Regions from separate parts of the Homo sapiens genome. Here region 2 is linked to region 1. The links come from fine-mapping of genetic effects on gene expression. A gene starts in region 1. The other region holds a variant in brackets. All regions are shown on one strand. Distances are from middle to middle.

Region 1 (9,440 bases):
GTTTCAGATGGCAGTGAATACACGAGGATTTCAGTGATACATGCTGCCTCATCATCATTACTTCATACAGAAATAAAACTTATATGAAGAGTAACTTTAAAAAGGATCAGGAAATTCATGAAGTAAAAAAGTCTCATGAAAATGATACATAATGCCGGGCATGGTGGCTTGCACCTGTAATCCCAGCACTTTGGGAGGCCAAGGTGGGTGGATCACTTGAGGTCGGGAGTTCGAGACCAGCCTGACCAACATGGTGAAGCCCCCCTCTCTACTAAAAATACAAAATTAGCCGAGCATGGTGGCTCACGCTTGTAATCCCAGCTACTCTGGAGGCTAAGCTGGAGAATCACTTGAACCTGGGAGGCAGAGGTTTCAGTGAGCCAAGATTGCGCCATTGCATTCCAGCCTGGGCAACAAGAGCGAAACTCTGCCTCAAAAAAAAAAAAAAAAAACCATATTTGAGGACTGTCACAAATCTAAACTCATGATACACTTGATATCTATTCTGTGACAGCATACCTTGCATCATATTATCAATGATTCCATAATTGTAAAGCGGGCTGTTCTTATCACTGATTAAATTTTAATCCTATATATAACACAGGTGTTTTCTGTGCCAATCTGGTGTTATTTATTAGTTCTTACATATTATAGGCCCCAAATTTATTTTTTTCAATTTACTGATAAATGTAATTCAGTATATTTGGATGTGTTTATCCAAGTTACTAGGTACCATTATGTAGTTTACAAAAATGCCTTAAATGTTATTTTTCTAAAATTTGTTTTGAAATAATTCTAGATTCACAAGAGATTACAAAATATACAAAAGTTTCCTGAGTATTCTTTGCTTAGCATCATCAATGTTATCTTACATAACCATAATAATAAAAACCACGGAGTTCTGCTCTTGTTGCCCAGGTTGGAGTGTAATAGCACGATCTTGGCTCACTGCAACCCCGCCTCCCAGGTTCAAGAGATTTTCCTGCCTCAGCCTCCTAAGTAGCTGGGATTACAGGCACCCACGACCACGCTCGACTAATTTTTGTATTTTTAGTAGAGACGGGGTTTCACTGTGTTGGCCAGGCTGGCCTTGAACTCTCGACCCCGGGCGGTCCACCCGCCTCAGCCTCCCAAAGTGCTGGGATTACAGGCATGAGCCACCACGCCTGGCCTCCTCTTGCTACCTCTTTATACTCACACTGTCCTCCCAATATGACCCATGGTAGCCACTGATCCCATTACCCTAATTTTGTTATTTCAAGAATGCTATTAAAATGGAATCGTAAGGTACGCAAGCTTTGAGATAGGGCTTTGTTCACTCAGCAAATTACCCTTAAGATCTATCCAAGTTGTTAGGTGTCTAAATAGTTTTAATTTTTGTTACTGAGTTAGTATTCTTTTAAATGGATGCACCAGGGTTTGTGTATCCATTCACTGTTGATGGACATTTGGGTTGTTTCCAGTGTTTTGCTGTTATAAATAAAGATGCTGTGACTATTTGTGTACCCGATATTGTGCGAACGTTAAGTTTTTATATATTTGGGATAGACACTGGGGGCATGACTGCTGGCGAATATGGTAAATGTGTTTAACTTTATAAGAAATGGCCAAACTCTTTCCCAGAGTGGCTGTACTAGTTTACATTCCCACCACCAATGTGTAAGCATTCCATGCCCTTTCTAGCTCTTGGCATTGCCAGTGTGCTTTAGCTTTCCTATTAGGTGTGTGGTGGTATATGATCATGGCCTCAACTTACACACCCCTAACACAAAATGATATTAAGCATCTCTACATCCACTGAGAACCATATCAAGTAAAATTGTAACTTTTGCTTCCAACCAGCAAACCCAATGTTTAAAACTCAAAAGAATATTATATTTTATAATATATTTACCCTTTCTGTTCCTTTTTCTTCATTCCTGATGTAATATTTCCTTTAGTTATTTCCTTTTTGTGCGAACTTCCTTAATCATTTCTCTTTGAGCAGGCCTGGTGGCAAAAAATTATTAGTTTCCCTAGAAACAGGGTTCCTGTTTTCTCTATCCAGAGTTATTTCCCTTGATCTAATGAGATTTAATCCAGTTTATAAATGGTGAGTTCTCTTTATAAAAGTAATAGACATTTGCCATATAGTATTGTGGCAGAATTCAATCCCTGACTCCATATTGAGTAATTTACTTCTTTGAAAATATTTTTTGAGCTTCTACACCATGGCAGGCATGTTGTAGGCAATGGAGACACATCAATGAACAAAACAGGCAAAGTGCTGGCTTTGATATGACATACAGTCTGGTGAAGGAGACTGAGTAAGATAAATACAAAATCGAATTCAGTTAAGTGCTAGGAAGAAATATAAAGCCTGGTAAGTTCATAGATTGTAACCTGAGTTATTTTAGGAAGAGTTTTCAGGATAGGCTTTTCTGTGCAGATATAATTTGAACCAAAGCCTAAATATACTGTGGGGACACAGCCATCATATTTTTAAGTCCAGAACACTATAGAACTTTCTAAGTGTTTTCTTTGGGGTTCCTGCCTCAGCATTCTCTGAGAAGCTTGTAAAAGAAGGCAAATTCTTGAGTCACTCCCCAGACATTCCAAGCTAGAATTTCTGGGGATGGGGTTCGGACTCTGCATTTATAAAAAGAGCCTTCTTAAATTTGAACATCTCTGCCCTAAATTGTGGATTGGTGCTCCCATCACCATTCCCACACTGTAACAGGATGGATTCAGGGCAGATTGTCTCCAGCAATGAATCAGACAAAAGTGCTCCACCAACCAGGCCCTTGAATCACCTTCCTTGTCCCGTGAATCAGCACAGCCTGCCACGGCAAAGTTTTATCAGCCCACTCCTGGAAATGATCAGTGAAGGTCCCATCATGGGCTGCTCATAGTCCTGTGGACCAGGTGCTAAACTTACCTACCAGAGATTAACATTCCAGATGAACGGGGCTGAAATTTAATCCTGGATGGAATATGTTATAACACTCAAGAAATACGAACATGAAATTCTTATTCTCTAGAAATTACAAAACGTAAGTAAAATGAAGAAATTTTAAGTCACCATAATTGTACGGAACAGTCAAATATTGTTAGTATATTCTCCAGAATTTTTCAAATGCATGAGCATATTTATTTTCTGAAAGAAAACAGCCTATTTTGCATTTATCATGCCATGAACTTATTATACATCATCATACCTATTTTCTAAGATCAACATGTTTTATAATATATTCATGATTATGGTACAAAGATAGTAAAATTAAGTATAAATTGGGAATATTTTTCAAGTAAAAACATGGCATTCTCTACCTATGAACACAAACAATATTAATTCAAACTAAATGTCTTGTTTAACCAATCACAATTTTCCAAAAGATGTTTATGATTTCTTCCAATAACAAGACCATAAAATATATACTATCCTGCAGATCATTTTTTTGTCCTCTGACAAAGTTTTCTTTTTTATAAAACAATTGTAGCATATTCTTTTAAATTGATATATACTCTTACAGTTCAGCAGATGTTCCATAATTTACCAAAGTATTCATCTCTCATTGTAATTCCCTTTTTTTGTAAATTACAAAAGTTGTGGTTAATATTAAGACAGATTTGCCTAGATAGCTTTTAGAATTGCTGTGTCAAAGAAAACGAAAAAATTAAATTGGCTCTAGGTTGCCTTCCAAAAATACAATATTTACTTAAATCTTCTACAGTTACAACGCCAACATCTGCAAAAATAGAACTAATATTTTTTAAGTGTGACTTTTTAAAAAATCTGGAAACATTGCAAAGTAGGATGATCGCATTCTAATAATTTCATATTCTTAAGTGCCCCACTGTCATCTTCCTTTACTTCTGGAAGGAAACATGTAGATATTAACACAGTTGCACCTTCACCTCCTCATCCCCTTCCCCACTGGCAGTGGTTTTAATAGCAAGCCCCATGTGGGTATTAGCATTTAATGGAGCATCACTCCTGTTCTCGGCTTCGTCCATTCAGTCAGAGTCTAATCTAACCCACAAAAGCCTTACCCAGCCCAGAACCCCCGCCCTATCCCCAAATCTAACACTTTCAGTGACCACTGGTTTTGGCAACTCTGTGACCGCTTCCTGGCCAGCACCGTGACTTCTTCAAACCTTGTTTATTTTTCCAAATTGTCCTGGATATGAGCATCTTCTCTGCCGTACGGCTGCTGCCTTCCTCTAAGATGGCCGTGCCCATGGTGCTCCAGCTAAGGCTCCACTCTCAGCTATAATGGGCACAAAGGGCGCCGCCATCTTTTTTCCACAGCAGGCTGAATAGAATGCCACTGCGCCGTGTTGGCCTTGGCTGGGCACCCGACTCTTGAGTGTCCCTTGCAACGAAGAGAGAAAGGCACTGAGGTGACTAAGAGTGATTCCCACAGCCATTATGGCCGCTCCTGTCAGAAACGCTGCGATGGGCGCAGCCCTGTGACCTCATAGAGCGGCGCCCGCAGTCTGAACTCGCGATCCCGGGCAGGCTCCGTGGTCCTCGCCTCGCTTCACGGTCTTTACCGCTCAGCTTCCCGGAGTCCGCGCAGGAGCGCGTCTGAATAGGAAGCGTTTTCGGACGTGGATGCGGCGTTTTGTCGCTGCCAGTGGTGTCTGGAGAGGTTCGGGCTCGGGTGAGTCGAGTTCTGGGCATGGACTCGCGGCCTGTGGGTCTGTGTACCGATGGTGCGTGGAGCGTCCTGATTGGGGCTGTATTTGAACGCAGTCGCTGAGGAAGCGGGGCGTTAATGACGGGTCCTTTGGCTGTAGGGATGAAGAGTCTGAGGAAATCAGCGACGAGTCCGACTCTGTCTGGGTCTGGGGCCCTTGTGAGTCACCCTTTACGGGTGTTGGGCTGGGGGACGGTCAGGTCTTTCCCTTCCCATGAGGCCCTATCTCAGGCTATCACATGGGATATTATCTTTCCTGAAGAATATAACATGTGCTCTTGAAAAAAATGTTTATTTTACTGCTGTTGAGTGCAGTGTTAAATGTTCGTTAAGTCTAGTTGGTTGATAATGTTGTTCAAGTTTTCGGTATCCTTGCTGAGTTTCTATTTGTTTTCTTTATTATTGCAAGTAGGGTAATGTAGTCTTCAATTATTATTGTTGAATTGTCTAATCCTCTCTCATTCTGTTTTGCTTCATACGTTTTTAAATTATCATATTCTTATATATACACCCTTATATTATTATTGCCAGCCATTGTAACCATTGTTGCCACTCACCTAGGCCTTGGTGTCCAGAGTTTTATTGGATATCAGTTAACACACACACACACAATTGACTGCCTATGAGGCTGACTTCAATCTCCAGCTCCTCCAGATATCAAACTAATACCACGTGGTCCAAGGTCTCCCACAGTAAATCACATTATTAGGATAGACAATTTGGCATGGCTTAAATTGCCCTGATAACCAAAGACAGTTTTATCAAGCAGCGTATTCCAAAGGCTTAGAGTTTGCCTCATAGGAACTGTGGGCAAAGGACAAAGCTCTCTTGGGTAAAGTTACTCCTTTAGCGCATAATGTGAAATGAGACAGTTCTTGTGATTTGCTTAGTACATTGGTCTTGACACGAGGTATGTATACCCAAAGAGCTTACAGAGACTTTCGAACCAGTACATGGGCACACGTGGTTTTTAAAGACATTCTTGGAGCCTTCCATGTGTTCTCTTTCCTAAAATTGATCTGTCTGAGAATTCACCTTGAAGGGGGCCACCCCTCCACAACCTGTGGGTGTTTCTTGTCAGGTGGGATGAGAGACTGAGAAAAGAAATAAGAGACAAAGTATAGAGAAAGAAAAGTGGGCCCAGGAGACCAGCACTCAGCATACGGAGGACCCACGCTGGCACTGGTCTCTGAGTTCCCTCAGTATTTATTGATCACTATCTCTACCACCTCGGAGAGGGGGATGTGGCAGGACAATAAGGTAATAGTGGGGAGAGGGTCAGCAGGAAAACATGTGAACAAAGGTCTCTGTGTCATAAATAAGTTTAAGGAAACGTGCTGTGCCTTGATGTGCACGCACACAAACATTTCGGTACAATAAAGAGCAGTATTGCCACCAGCATGTCTCACCTCCAGCCCTAAGGCGGTTTTCTCCTATCTCAGTAAATAGAACAGACAATGGGGTTTTACACGGAGACATTCCATTCCCAGGGACGAGGAGGAGACAGATGCCTTTCTCTTATCTCAACCGCAAAGAGGCCTTCCTCTTTTACTGATCCTCCTCAGCAGAGACCCTTTACAGGTGTCGGGGTAGGGGACGGTCAGGTCTTTCCCTTCCCACGAGGCCATATCTCAGGCTATCATATGGGGAGAAACCTTGGACAATACCTGGTTTTCCTAGGCAGAGGTCCCCGCGGCCTTCCGCAGTGTATTGTGTCTCTGGGTAGTTGAGATTAGAGAATGGTGATGACTTTTACCAAGCATACTGCCTTCAAGCACGTTTTTAACAAAGCACATCCTGCACAGCCCTAAATCCATTAAACCTTGAGTCAACACAGCACATGTCTCTGCTAGCATAGGGTTGGAGCTAGGGTTACAGATTAACAGCATCTCAAGGCAGAAGAATTTCTCTTAGTACAGAACAAAATGGAGCCTCTTATGTCTACTTCTTTCTGCATAGACACAGTAACAGTCTGATCTCTCTTTCTTTTCCCCAGACACCTGCCTCTGAGGCATTGTGCTGTGCTGGTTCTGCTTTCCCACCTTCTCTATAATAGTCATGCCACTTCTACTTCACAAAAGAAAGGCATAGATTTCACACATTTAGAACCATGAAAACCTCTGAGGCAGCAAATAAAGGAACTGTTAGAAATATTAGGGTCTTTTATTTAAGGTAAGTGCAGAGCAGCAGTGACAATGTCTGGACCCAGGGTTAATGTACACTGAAAGCCATTTTGTTTATCAGTCCTCAGGTCCTGGCTCCCAGAAGCAAAATAACTCAAGTGAAGCAATGAAGGAAGAAGAAGGAGGTTGCTGGCCTTGGATATCATAATTTCTGGGGACAACTTTAAGTGGACACTAATATTTCTGACTAGGAAAACTTCAAAAACTTCATGGCAAATGCAGAAGAGACAAAGACGTATAGTCCATGTTATCCACTATTTTCTGAGCACAGAAGAAAATGATCAAGACCCAGGTGATATTTTCCCTTTGATTTTTTGATAGATTTATGGTGGCCTGAAGAAGTCAGTTGAACTTAAGGAAGTATATACTGGGATAATTGTGTTCTAGGGAGAAATTAACTTACATTGCTTTTGGGAGTAGAGGTGGGGGTTCATTCTGCCTTAAGAAGTAGATTCTGGATCGCTTGAGCTCAGGAGTTCAAGACCAGCCTGGGCAACATGGTGAAACCCCGTCTCTACAAAAAATACAAAAATTAGCTGGGTGTGGTGGTGCACACCTGTAATCCCAGCTACTCGGGAGGCTAAGGTGGGAGAAGAATTGCTAGAGCTCAGGAGGACGAGGCTACAGTGAGCCATGTTTGCACCACCGCACTCCAACCTGGGTGACAAAGTAAGACCCTGTCTCAAAAAGAAGGAAAAAAAAGTAGACTCAATATGAAAGAATCCATGCTTTGTTGGTAGTTCAACTTTTGACCATTACAATGATACATGAATCACCCACCACTCAAGAAGGAACTATGGTTGTCATTTTAATGTACATACTCCAGACCATTTTTGGAATATTGGCATTCTTTGCATGCTGGTGCCTGCCAACCAACTTTTTTAAAATTACTAATTTATTTATTTATTTATTTTGAGACAGAGTCTTGCTCTGTTGCCCAGGCTGGAGTGCAGTGGCGCAGTCTTGGCTCACTGCAAGCTCTGCCTCCCAGGTTCACGCCATTCTCTTGCCTCAGCCTCCCAAGTAGTTGGCAGGAGACAGATGCCTTCCTCTTATCTCAACTGCAAAAAGGCCTTCCTCTTTTTCTAATCCTCCTCAGCACAGACCCTTTACGGGTATCCCCCGGTGTCATGCTGGGGGACGGTCAGGTCTTTCCCTTCCCACGAGGCCATATCTCAGGCTATCACTTGGGAAGAAACCTTGGACAATACCTGGCTTTCCTAGGCAGAGGCCCCTGTGGCCTTCTGCAGTGTGTTGTGTCCCTGGGTACTTGAGATTAGAGAATGGTGATGACTTTTAACAAGCATACTGCCTTCAAGTGCTTTTTTAACAAAGGACATTCTGCATAGCCCTAAATCCATTAAACCTTGAGTCAACACAGCACATATTTCTGCGAGCACAGGGTTAGGGCTACGGTTACAGATTAACAGCATCTCAAGGCAGAAGAATTTCTCTTAGTACAGAACAAAATGAAGTCTCTTACGTCTACTTCTTTCTACATAGACACAGTAACAGTCTGATCTCTCTTTCTTTTCCCCACATCTGACACCAGATATGTGGGGTTTTTCCCACACATCAATTCAATTCTCCATACCTATTAGGTATTCTAAAATTTACTCAATTCTGACACTAATTGTCTAGACTTAGGACAGACTCCACAGGTTGAGGGCTCAGTCCCACAATACTGCCCCCCTGAAAAGTGCTGGGTCCCCAGGTTACTCACAAGTTCTTTTGGACTTGGCTACCAATTGGATGTCCCCACAACCCCCTTCTCAGATCTATTCATCTGCTAGAAGGCTCAAAAAATGCAGGAAGACAGTTTACTTACTAGATTACTGGCTTATTATGAAAGGGTACAACTCAGGAATGGCCAGTTGGAAAAGATGCATAGGTCAGGTAATGGGGAAGGGCCTCAGGGCTTCCATGCCCTTTCTGGGTATTCTACCCTCCCAGGACTACCCTATGTTCAGCAGCCTGGAAGCTCTCAACCTCATCCTTTTATTGTTTTGGTGGGTTCATTACATAGGCATAATTTATTAATTCATTAACTATTGGTGGTAAGCTCAATTTCCATCACCTCTCCCTTCCACAGAGGTCAGGGGTTGGTTGGAGAGGTGAGACTGAAAGTTCCAACTGTCTGTCACAAGGTTGGTTCCCCTGGCAACCAGCTCCCTTCCTGAGGCCATGGAAGAGCCCCAGGCACCAGTCATCTCAATAGCATATAAAAGACACTTCAGCAATTCCAAAGATTTGGAGGGCAGAGACCAAATGTATATTTATTTTTCACAGTCTGGTATATAGAAAGTGACACGGATAAGTATATTTGGTCATTGTTCCCAGTTCATGGCACAGTATGCTTAAAACCCTTGGAATTTCTTCCTGAGAAATAGGTGTGTCTTTTGTTATTCATAAGGAAACCCTGTGATACACCTGAATTTCTGCTCATGAGGTGACTACTCATGAGACCTCTAGATAGTGTCAGGATGAGACTGGTCCCCAGAAAGACCAAGCAATTAGAGGATTGGAACTGAAAGGAGGAATGGACTGGAGAGTAAGTTCTATAAAAACTCTTGAA
Region 2 (9,425 bases), 41 kb before region 1:
GGCCAGGAGCAATGGCTCATGCCTGTAATCCCAGCACTTTGGGAGGCTGAGGCAGGCGGATCATTTTGAGGTCTGAGGTCAGGAGTTCGAGACCAGCCTGACCAACATGGTGAATCCCTGTTTCTACTAAAAATACAAAAAAATTAGCCGGGTGTGGTGGCACATGCATGTAATCTCAGCTACTTGGGAGGCTGAGACAAGAGAATTGCTTGAAGCCAGTAGGCAGAGGTTGCATTGAGCTGAGATCACACTGCTGTACTTCAGCCTGGGCGACAGAGCAAGACCCTGTCTCTAAAAAAAAAAAAGAAAAAAAAACAACAACTTGTATTTTGTCCAGAAAAGTTTTTCCTAGATTTTCTTCTAGAATTTTTGTAGCTTGAAGACTTAATGTAAGTCGTTATTCATCTTGAATTAATTTTTGTATATGACAAGAGATAGGAGTCCAGTTTCATTCTTCTATATATGGCTAGCCAGTTTTTCTAGCACCCTTTATTGAATAGAATGTCTTTTCCCAATTTTTTTTTGACTATCAAGGATCAGTTGGTTGTAGGTGTGTGGCTGTATTTCTGGGTTTCCTATTCTGTTCCATTGGATATCTTCTGTTTTAATGTTAGCATTTATATCTGCAGATTTTCTATCTTAGCACTGTTTTTCCTGCATTCACAAGTTTTGGTATGTTCTATTTTCATTTTCCTTTGTTTTGAGATTTTTAAAATTTCCCTTGTGATTTCTAATTTGACATATTGGCTGTTTAAGAGTATGGTCCTTGTTTGTTTGTTTTTGTTTTTTGAGACGGAGTTACGCTCTTGTTGTCCAGGCTGGAGTGCAGTGGTGCAATCTCGGCTCACTGCAACCTCCACTTCCTGGGTTCAAGCGATTCTCCTGCCTCAGCCTCCCGAGTAGCTGGGATTACAGGCATCTGCCACCATGCTTGGCTGAGGGTTTCACTATGTTGGCCAGGCTGGTCTCGAACTCCTGACCTCAGGTGATCCACCTGCCTCAGCCACCCAAATTGCTGGGATTACAGGCGTGAGCCACCACACCGGCCTAAGAGTATGTTGTTTCCACATATTTGTTGATAATCTAATTTTCTTCTGCTGTTGATCTCTAGTTTTATTTTATTATGATGGGATAAGTTATGCTTTACGATTTTAGTCTTTAAAAAGTTTAAAATTTTTTTTCTTTTCCGATATTTCTTTTGAAAAATGTTTCATGTGCAGTTCTGAAAAATTTGTATTGCACTGTTTTTGGGTGATGTGTTATGCATATATAGGTTAGGTTCAACTTGATATATAGTTTAGGTTCTCTAGTTCCTTGTTTTTCTTCTGTCTGATTGTCCTATTTATAAGTAAAAATAGGCCATTGAAGTCTCTTATTATTACTGTGGAACTACTTCTCCCTTTAGTTACGTTAATTTTGCTTCACATATTGAGGATCTCTATATAGGCACATATTGTTATATCCTCCTAGTGAATTAACCTTTTAATCATTATATAATGCCCTTCTTTGTCTCTTGTACCAGTTTTGACATAAAGTCTATTTTGGCTGACATCAGTTTAGCCACCTCTGATGTCTTTCGGTTAACATTTTGAGGGCATATCTTTTTTCATCCCTTCAGTTCAGCCTATGTGTGTCCTTTGAATTAAAATGAGTATTTTCTGGATAGTGTGCAGCTGAAGCCAGTTTTAAAAATTTATTCAGCCAGTCTCTGTCTTTTGACTGTGGAGTATAAACACTTACATTTAATGTAATTACTGATAGAAAAGGACTTATATTGCCATTGTGTTAAGTGCTTTCTATATCTCTTTTAGATTTTTTTGTTCTGTTTGTCTTACTGCCTTCGTTTTTATATAGTTGATTTTTTTTTCCTGAAATAGTTTTATTTCCATTGTGTGTGTCTTCTATACATTCTCTGTGGTTACCGTTGCAATTACAGAAAACACTTTAGATTTATAACATCCTATTTTAAACTAATAACAGCTTAACTTCAATTACATACAGAAATGACTTTTTACAGATCTGCTTCCATGTTGTGTTTTTGATATCCCAGGATACTTTCATCGTATATACTGTGTCTCCATTAACATATATTTAAACCTTGACAAGAGTCTCCTGCTTTCTTTGTTTTCTCAAATCTTTGCCTGTTGTGCTACGGGTCCTCATTCTGCACCCCGTCTCCTTAACGTTCTTGTACTATCAGTAAAGTTTTGTGGTGTCTTTGTGTGTGTACAAAATGAATTCATCCATCTCCTCTTCGTGGCCATTTTCAGGTTTTTTCTTAAGGATTGAATTGTAAGAACAGTCTTTCACATATCTCTTGATATGTAGGGTTGTTGAGCATATACCTGGAAATAGAACTTATGGGACATTCAGTTTGATAAATTTCATAGCAAATATTATAGAGACATAAATCTGTTTTCTTCCCATATCATCACACCGCCTCCTTTTTAATTGTCTTCCCTTGTTGTCCTGCACCCATAGTATAATTCTCATGTTTAAGTATTAGTCAGTACAATACTACCTCTACATTAGTTTCTCTTTTCTTCCAAAGCCAGGATTTTAGCTGTTTCTTGTGCAATTCTATTCCCACAGCTCTTCAAGCACAAACCCTGCTGCTCCATGCTCATTACTCCTTGATCTCCCCTCTTGCCCTTTGTCCTCCTGGGCCTTTCCTAACATATTACTTTGTCCAGATGGACTACCCAGTTACTGACTAGCATATTAATTTTATACTCCCATTATTGCAGAACTCCCTCACCTCCCATGCTACTCTCACTCTGTAAGGGGTGACCCCTACTCATTCACTTGACCACTGTCTGATAACACTGCGTAAATCAATATGTGCAGGGGATGATGACTCAGATACCGTTCGTTATTCATGACGGATGGCTGAATAATGCTTTTGGCAACACAGCATTGCAGGGAGCCAAAGCCTGTGGGACGTGACCAACTCAGCATTCCACTGGAGGCTATATGATCAAACAGCAAACTGTTTATCATGAATGCAGGATGTGGGCAAACTCATGACTGCTCCTGCTGACAGAAGGTTTGCTGGAGGCAATCACTTCCTGGTGCCAGGGTTATCTACTGCCATATCTAGAGCCTGTTGTTTGAGGAATGCAGTCTTGCAAGCCTACTCTGGACTGCGCAGCTGACCCCTTCTTCCACCATCCTTCTCACTATCTCTCTTGCCTAATAAATACGGACGGCTGTGTAAAGCTCAGGGCCCTTGTCCACTACAGGCAAGGTGCCCCTGACCCCTTCTTCCAAATATACTCTTTTGTCTCTTGTCTTTTATTCCCGCATTCGCCCCCTTTGTTCAGTCCTCCTAGGTCCATGTGGGTTACATAGTGGCACCCTGAACAGCGACAGAATCAGGTGCTCTACACAAAATGGCTCTTGAAGTATTTCTACACTCTTGATATTTGGGTTGACCTGTTATCTGCACTGCTTGTTTGGGAAGTTGTTTTTAAAAAACATGTTTGATCTTGCAAACCCAGGTTCTTGTGTCTTACTTTCTTTGTAAATTGGGTATAGATACATAAATCCTGTGGGCATATTTAGTGTGCTTGTTTGTTAAATAGTGATAATTTACCTAAAGACTTTTTAAACAAGTTAATGCTGTTAGCTAGCTTAGAATATTGCATGTTTTATAGTACAGACTCACAAATTTGTTTAATAACGTGTATCAACATTGTTTCATGTTTATAATGAGATAGCATATTGGCTTTACCTTAGTCAGCATGACTAGCTATATCAGATACCATAGATAGGGTGGTTTAAACAGCAGAAATGGACTTTTCACAGATCTGGGTGGTGCAAAGTTCAACATGTCAGAGCCAGCCACTTTGGTTCTTGGTGTGGACTTTTTTCTGGTGTGCCATGGCTGACTCTGTGTTCTCATGTGGCAGAGAGATTGTCATGCAAAAAGCAGAGGCTTTTTCACGTTTCTGCTAATTGCATTCCTGAAGTTCTATGCACCATCCTGACCTAATTGCCTTCCAAAGACCACACTTCCAAATACTATCACATTGAGGATGGGGCCTTAACATAGGAATTTTGGCAGACATAAGTCTTTATATCAGAGCAGTCTACATTGTATCTGTAAGTTTTCATTTTGCAGTTTGGTCCAAACGGTGTTGTCTTTTATCTCAGTTCATGCATTTTCCAAGTACAATCTCTGTATCATATATATTTTGTGGCCAAGGAACTGGATAATAAAGACAGTGAATAGGACTGGGCACGGTGGCTCATGCCTATAATCCCAGCACTTTGGGAGGCAGAGGTGGGCAGATTGTTTGAGCTTAGGAGTTCCAGACCAGCCTGGGCAACATGGCAAAACCTCATCTCTACCAAAACTACAAAAAAATTAACCGGGCATGATGGCATGCATCTGTGGTCCCAGCTCTCAGGAGGCTGAGGTGGGAGGATCGCTTGAGCCTGTGAGTTGGAGGTTGCAGTGAGGTGGGATCATGCCACTGTACTCCAGCCTGGGTGACAGAGTGAGACTCCATCTCAGCCAAAAGCAAAAAAAGACAATGAATACATAGGGACTTGCTCTGTTGTTTGTTACATAGTTGTAGGCATGAAATCATAACTGAGATTTCTGATTTCCTTTCCCAAGTTTTATTCTTTTTTTGAGGCAGTCTCGCTCTGTTGCCCAGGCTGAAGTGCAGTGTCGTGATCTTGGCTGACTGCAACCTCCCCCTTACAGGTTTATGTGATTCTCGTGCTTCAGCCTCCTGAGTAGTTGGGATTACAGGCATGCATCACCACGCTTGGCTAATGTTTTATATTTTTAGTAGAGATGAGGTTTCACCATGTTGGCCTGGCTAGTCTCAAACTCTTGGCCTCAAGTGATCTGCCCACCTTGGCCTCTCAAAATGCTGGGATTATAGGTCTGAGCCACCATACCTGTCTCCATTTTTTTTTTTTTTTT[TG/G]AGACTGCTCTGTCGCCCAGGCTGGAGTGCAGTGGCGAAATCTTGGCTCACTGCAACCTCCGCCTCCTGGGTTCCAATGATTCTCCTGTCTCAGGCTCCGGAGTAGCTGGGATTACAGGCACGTGCCACCACACCCGGCTGATTTTTTTTACTTTTAGTACAGACGAGATTTCACCATGTTGGCCAAGCTAGTCTTGAACTCCTGACCTCGTGATCCACCCACCTCGGCCTCCCAAAGTGCTGGGATTACAGGCTTGAGCCACCGTGCCCGGCTGACCTGTCCCCAATTTTTATTCTTTATTATTTTATATATTTACCTTTCTCTCATCCAAGTACTAACCAGTTCTGACACTGCTTAGTTTCTGAGATCAGACAAGATCAGATGCATTCACGGTGGTATGGCCATAGACATATTTACCTTTCTTTTATCTTTAAAAGCCAGTGATCTCAACATATTTTCTAGTTATATACTGCCTCTAGAATATAAATTCTTGCTTATTATTGATGGAGAATTGTTTAGAATTTCATACTATAGATTTGTATTTTGTGGTTGTTCATTATTTACCTGCTGGTTTTATCACAGGCTATTAGAATGTTTTATTAATTAATTTATATTATGATTATTTATTAGTTAATATTTACCATTACAGTATATCTTGCTGTTGCTTGGCATTCATTTGTATGAAATAAATATATGTAACTTTTTTTCTCTCCTATTATGAGGGAGCCATATGTTTACTGCCAATTGGTGTGTCATTTGGGGTCAGCGATTGCAAAATACTTGTTTTGGTGCTCATATATGTTTGCATAACATGAGTCTTTTGGTCGAAGGATGTTTGAAACTAGGCTTTCCTAAAATTGATTTAAATTACATGTAATCACTTTTTCTTTACTATAGAATTCTATTCATTTTGCATTTCTACAAATAGAAGATCATGGTAGAAAAGTTTCACAACTTGCTAGTATAAACATTATGTTTAGCGTAGTGTGTTTTCAGTATAAAATAATATTTACCAATAATAGTTATTTTAAAACCCCATGTTCATTATATTTTGCAGGTATCTCTCCTAAATGTGTGATCAAGGAATTACCACCAATACAGAACAGTAACACAGGAGAAAAATTCCAAGCAGTGATGTTGGAAGGACATGAAAGCTATGACACTGAAAATTTTTACTTCAGGGAAATCCGGAAAAATCTACAGGAAGTTGACTTTCAATGGAAAGATGGTGAAATAAATTATAAAGAAGGGCCGATGACCCATAAAAACAATCTTACTGGTCAAAGAGTTCGACATAGTCAAGGGGACGTAGAAAACAAGCATATGGAAAATCAGCTTATATTAAGGTTTCAGTCCGGTCTGGGTGAATTGCAGAAATTTCAAACTGCAGAGAAAATTTATGGATGTAATCAAATTGAGAGGACAGTTAATAATTGTTTTTTAGCTTCACCACTTCAAAGAATTTTTCCTGGTGTCCAAACCAACATTTCTAGGAAATATGGGAATGATTTTTTGCAACTTTCGTTACCTACACAAGACGAGAAAACACATATTAGGGAAAAACCTTACATAGGTAATGAGTGTGGCAAAGCCTTCAGAGTGTCTTCAAGTCTTATTAATCATCAGATGATACATACTACAGAGAAACCTTACAGATGCAATGAGTCTGGTAAAGCCTTTCATCGGGGCTCACTACTAACAGTACATCAGATAGTCCATACAAGAGGGAAACCATACCAATGTGATGTATGTGGCAGGATCTTCAGACAAAATTCAGATCTTGTAAATCACCGGAGAAGTCACACTGGAGACAAACCCTACATATGTAATGAATGTGGCAAGTCCTTTAGTAAAAGTTCCCACCTTGCAGTTCATCAGAGAATTCATACTGGAGAGAAACCTTACAAATGTAATCGATGTGGGAAGTGCTTTAGTCAAAGTTCCTCTCTTGCAACTCATCAGACAGTTCATACTGGAGACAAACCCTACAAATGTAATGAATGTGGCAAAACCTTTAAACGGAACTCAAGCCTCACTGCACATCATATAATCCATGCAGGAAAGAAACCATATACATGTGATGTATGTGGCAAGGTCTTTTATCAGAATTCACAACTTGTAAGGCACCAGATAATTCATACTGGAGAGACACCTTACAAATGTAATGAATGTGGCAAGGTCTTCTTTCAACGTTCACGTCTTGCAGGGCACCGGAGAATTCATACTGGAGAGAAACCCTACAAATGTAATGAATGTGGCAAGGTCTTCAGTCAACATTCACATCTTGCAGTGCATCAGAGAGTTCATACTGGAGAGAAACCTTACAAATGTAATGAATGTGGCAAAGCCTTTAATTGGGGCTCATTACTAACTGTACATCAGAGAATTCATACCGGAGAGAAACCTTACAAATGTAATGTGTGTGGCAAGGTCTTTAATTACGGTGGATACCTTTCGGTTCATATGAGATGTCATACTGGAGAGAAACCTCTCCATTGTAATAAATGTGGCATGGTCTTCACTTACTATTCATGCCTAGCACGTCATCAAAGAATGCATACCGGAGAGAAACCTTACAAATGTAATGTGTGTGGCAAGGTCTTCATTGACAGTGGAAACCTTTCAATTCATAGGCGAAGTCATACCGGAGAGAAACCTTTCCAGTGTAACGAATGCGGCAAGGTCTTCAGTTACTACTCATGCCTAGCACGTCATCGGAAAATTCATACCGGAGAGAAACCTTATAAATGTAATGATTGTGGCAAAGCCTATACTCAGCGTTCAAGCCTCACTAAACATCTGGTAATTCATACTGGAGAGAACCCTTACCACTGTAATGAATTTGGTGAGGCTTTTATCCAAAGTTCAAAACTTGCAAGATATCACAGAAATCCTACTGGGGAGAAACCACACAAATGTAGTGAATGTGGTAGAACTTTTAGTCATAAAACAAGTCTGGTGTACCATCAGAGAAGACATACTGGAGAGATGCCATACAAATGTATTGAATGTGGGAAAGTCTTTAACTCCACTACAACCCTGGCAAGGCATCGGAGAATTCATACTGGAGAGAAACCTTACAAATGTAATGAATGTGGCAAGGTCTTCCGTTATCGCTCAGGCCTCGCACGTCATTGGAGTATTCATACTGGAGAGAAACCTTACAAATGTAATGAGTGTGGCAAAGCCTTTAGAGTACGTTCAATTCTGCTTAATCATCAGATGATGCATACTGGAGAGAAACCTTATAAATGTAATGAATGTGGTAAAGCTTTTATCGAAAGGTCAAACTTGGTTTACCATCAGAGAAACCATACTGGAGAGAAGCCATACAAATGTATGGAATGTGGCAAGGCGTTTGGGCGGCGGTCTTGCCTCACTAAACACCAACGAATTCATTCTAGTGAAAAACCTTATAAATGTAATGAGTGTGGCAAATCTTACATTAGTCGCTCAGGCCTCACTAAACATCAGATAAAACATGCTGGAGAGAACCTTACAACTAAACTCAATGTGGAAAGGCCGTTAGATGTTGTCCTAACCTCTGGGATCCCCAAATAATTTATACTTACTCATATAGCTTGTATATTTGTCCTTTCCCTTTGAAGTCTCATGTGGAATTGTAGTAATCTCCAGTATTGGAGGTGGAGCCTAGTGGGAGGTGATTGGATGATGGGGGTGGCTTTCTCAAGAAAGTTTTAGTACCATCCCCTTGTTGCTGTCCTTGTGATAGTTCTCATGAGGTCTGGCTCATGCCTGTAATCCCAGCACTTTGGGAGGCTGAGGTGGGCGGATCACTTGAGGTCAGGAGTTCAAGAGCAGCCTGGCCAACATGGTGAAACCCTGTTTCTGCCAAAAATACAAAAATTAGCTGGGCTTCGTGGCGGGTACTGGTAGTACCAGCTACTCGAGAGGCTGAGTCAGGAGAATTGCTTGAACCCTGGAGGCGGAGGTTGCAGTGAGCCGAGATCGCGCCACTGCACTCTAGCCTGGGTGACAGAGTGAGACTCCATCACGCACACGCACGCACGAAAGTGAATGGCACCTCCCTCTTGTTTGTTCTTCTGGCCATGTGACATGCCCTTCACCTCCCACCATCATTTTAACCTTCCTCAGGTTTCCCGAGAGGGTGAACAGACGTCAGCGCCATGTTTCCTATAAAGCCTGCAAAATTGTGAGTCAATTAAACCTCTTTATACATTACCTAGCCTCAGGTATTTCTGTCTAGCCATGCAATTATGGCCTAATATATTTACACATGGAGTGAATATAGCTAAGTTTTTTTTTTTTTTTTTTTTTTTTTTTTTTTTTTTTGGAGACGGAGTCTCGCTCTGTCGCCCAGGCGGGACTGCGGACTGCAGTGGCGCAATCTCGGCTCACTGCAAGCTCTGCTTCCTGGGTTCACGCCATTCTCCTGCCTCAGCCTCCCGAGTAGCTGGGACTACAGGCGCTCGCCACCGCGCCCGGCTAATTTTTTTTGTATT

Alleles and levels. Positions count from the first base shown, and alleles are read on the strand shown. Sizes are in standard deviations (SD) of each study's normalised expression.
For the expression in monocytes after R848 of the gene that starts at base 4,509 in region 1, allele TG in region 2 goes with a lower level than allele G (large effect, 0.78 SD a copy in Quach 2016).

Evidence for each region. PIP is the estimated chance that this variant, and not a neighbour inherited with it, causes the effect.
Region 2: its variant is fine-mapped to the expression of ZNF614 in monocytes after R848 (Quach 2016, PIP 0.95).

What each region holds. Positions count from the first base shown.
Region 1 is chr19:52,023,448-52,032,887 of GRCh38, reverse strand. ZNF614 (zinc finger protein 614) reads left to right here and starts at 4,509. Exons shown (of 5, transcript NM_025040.4): 1 at 4,509-4,646; 2 at 6,927-7,157. The coding sequence starts at 7,143. ZNF432 (zinc finger protein 432) reads left to right here. Exons shown (of 5, transcript NM_014650.4): 5 at 1-1,510. It overlaps LOC112268244 (a long non-coding RNA gene), which reads right to left and starts at 6,489. Exons shown (of 2, transcript XR_002958414.2): 1 at 6,350-6,489; 2 at 3,108-5,776. RefSeq lists enhancers at 4,022-4,781, 5,252-6,022.
Region 2 is chr19:52,064,184-52,073,608 of GRCh38, reverse strand. It overlaps ZNF841 (zinc finger protein 841), which reads left to right. Exons shown (of 7, transcript NM_001136499.2): 7 at 5,999-9,144. The coding sequence ends at 8,502. Among named protein-coding and RNA genes, the nearest start is that of ZNF432, 20 kb to the right of the region's middle. RefSeq lists enhancers at 2,280-3,479, 7,396-8,595. The variant TG/G (reference allele first, on the strand shown) is at 4,940.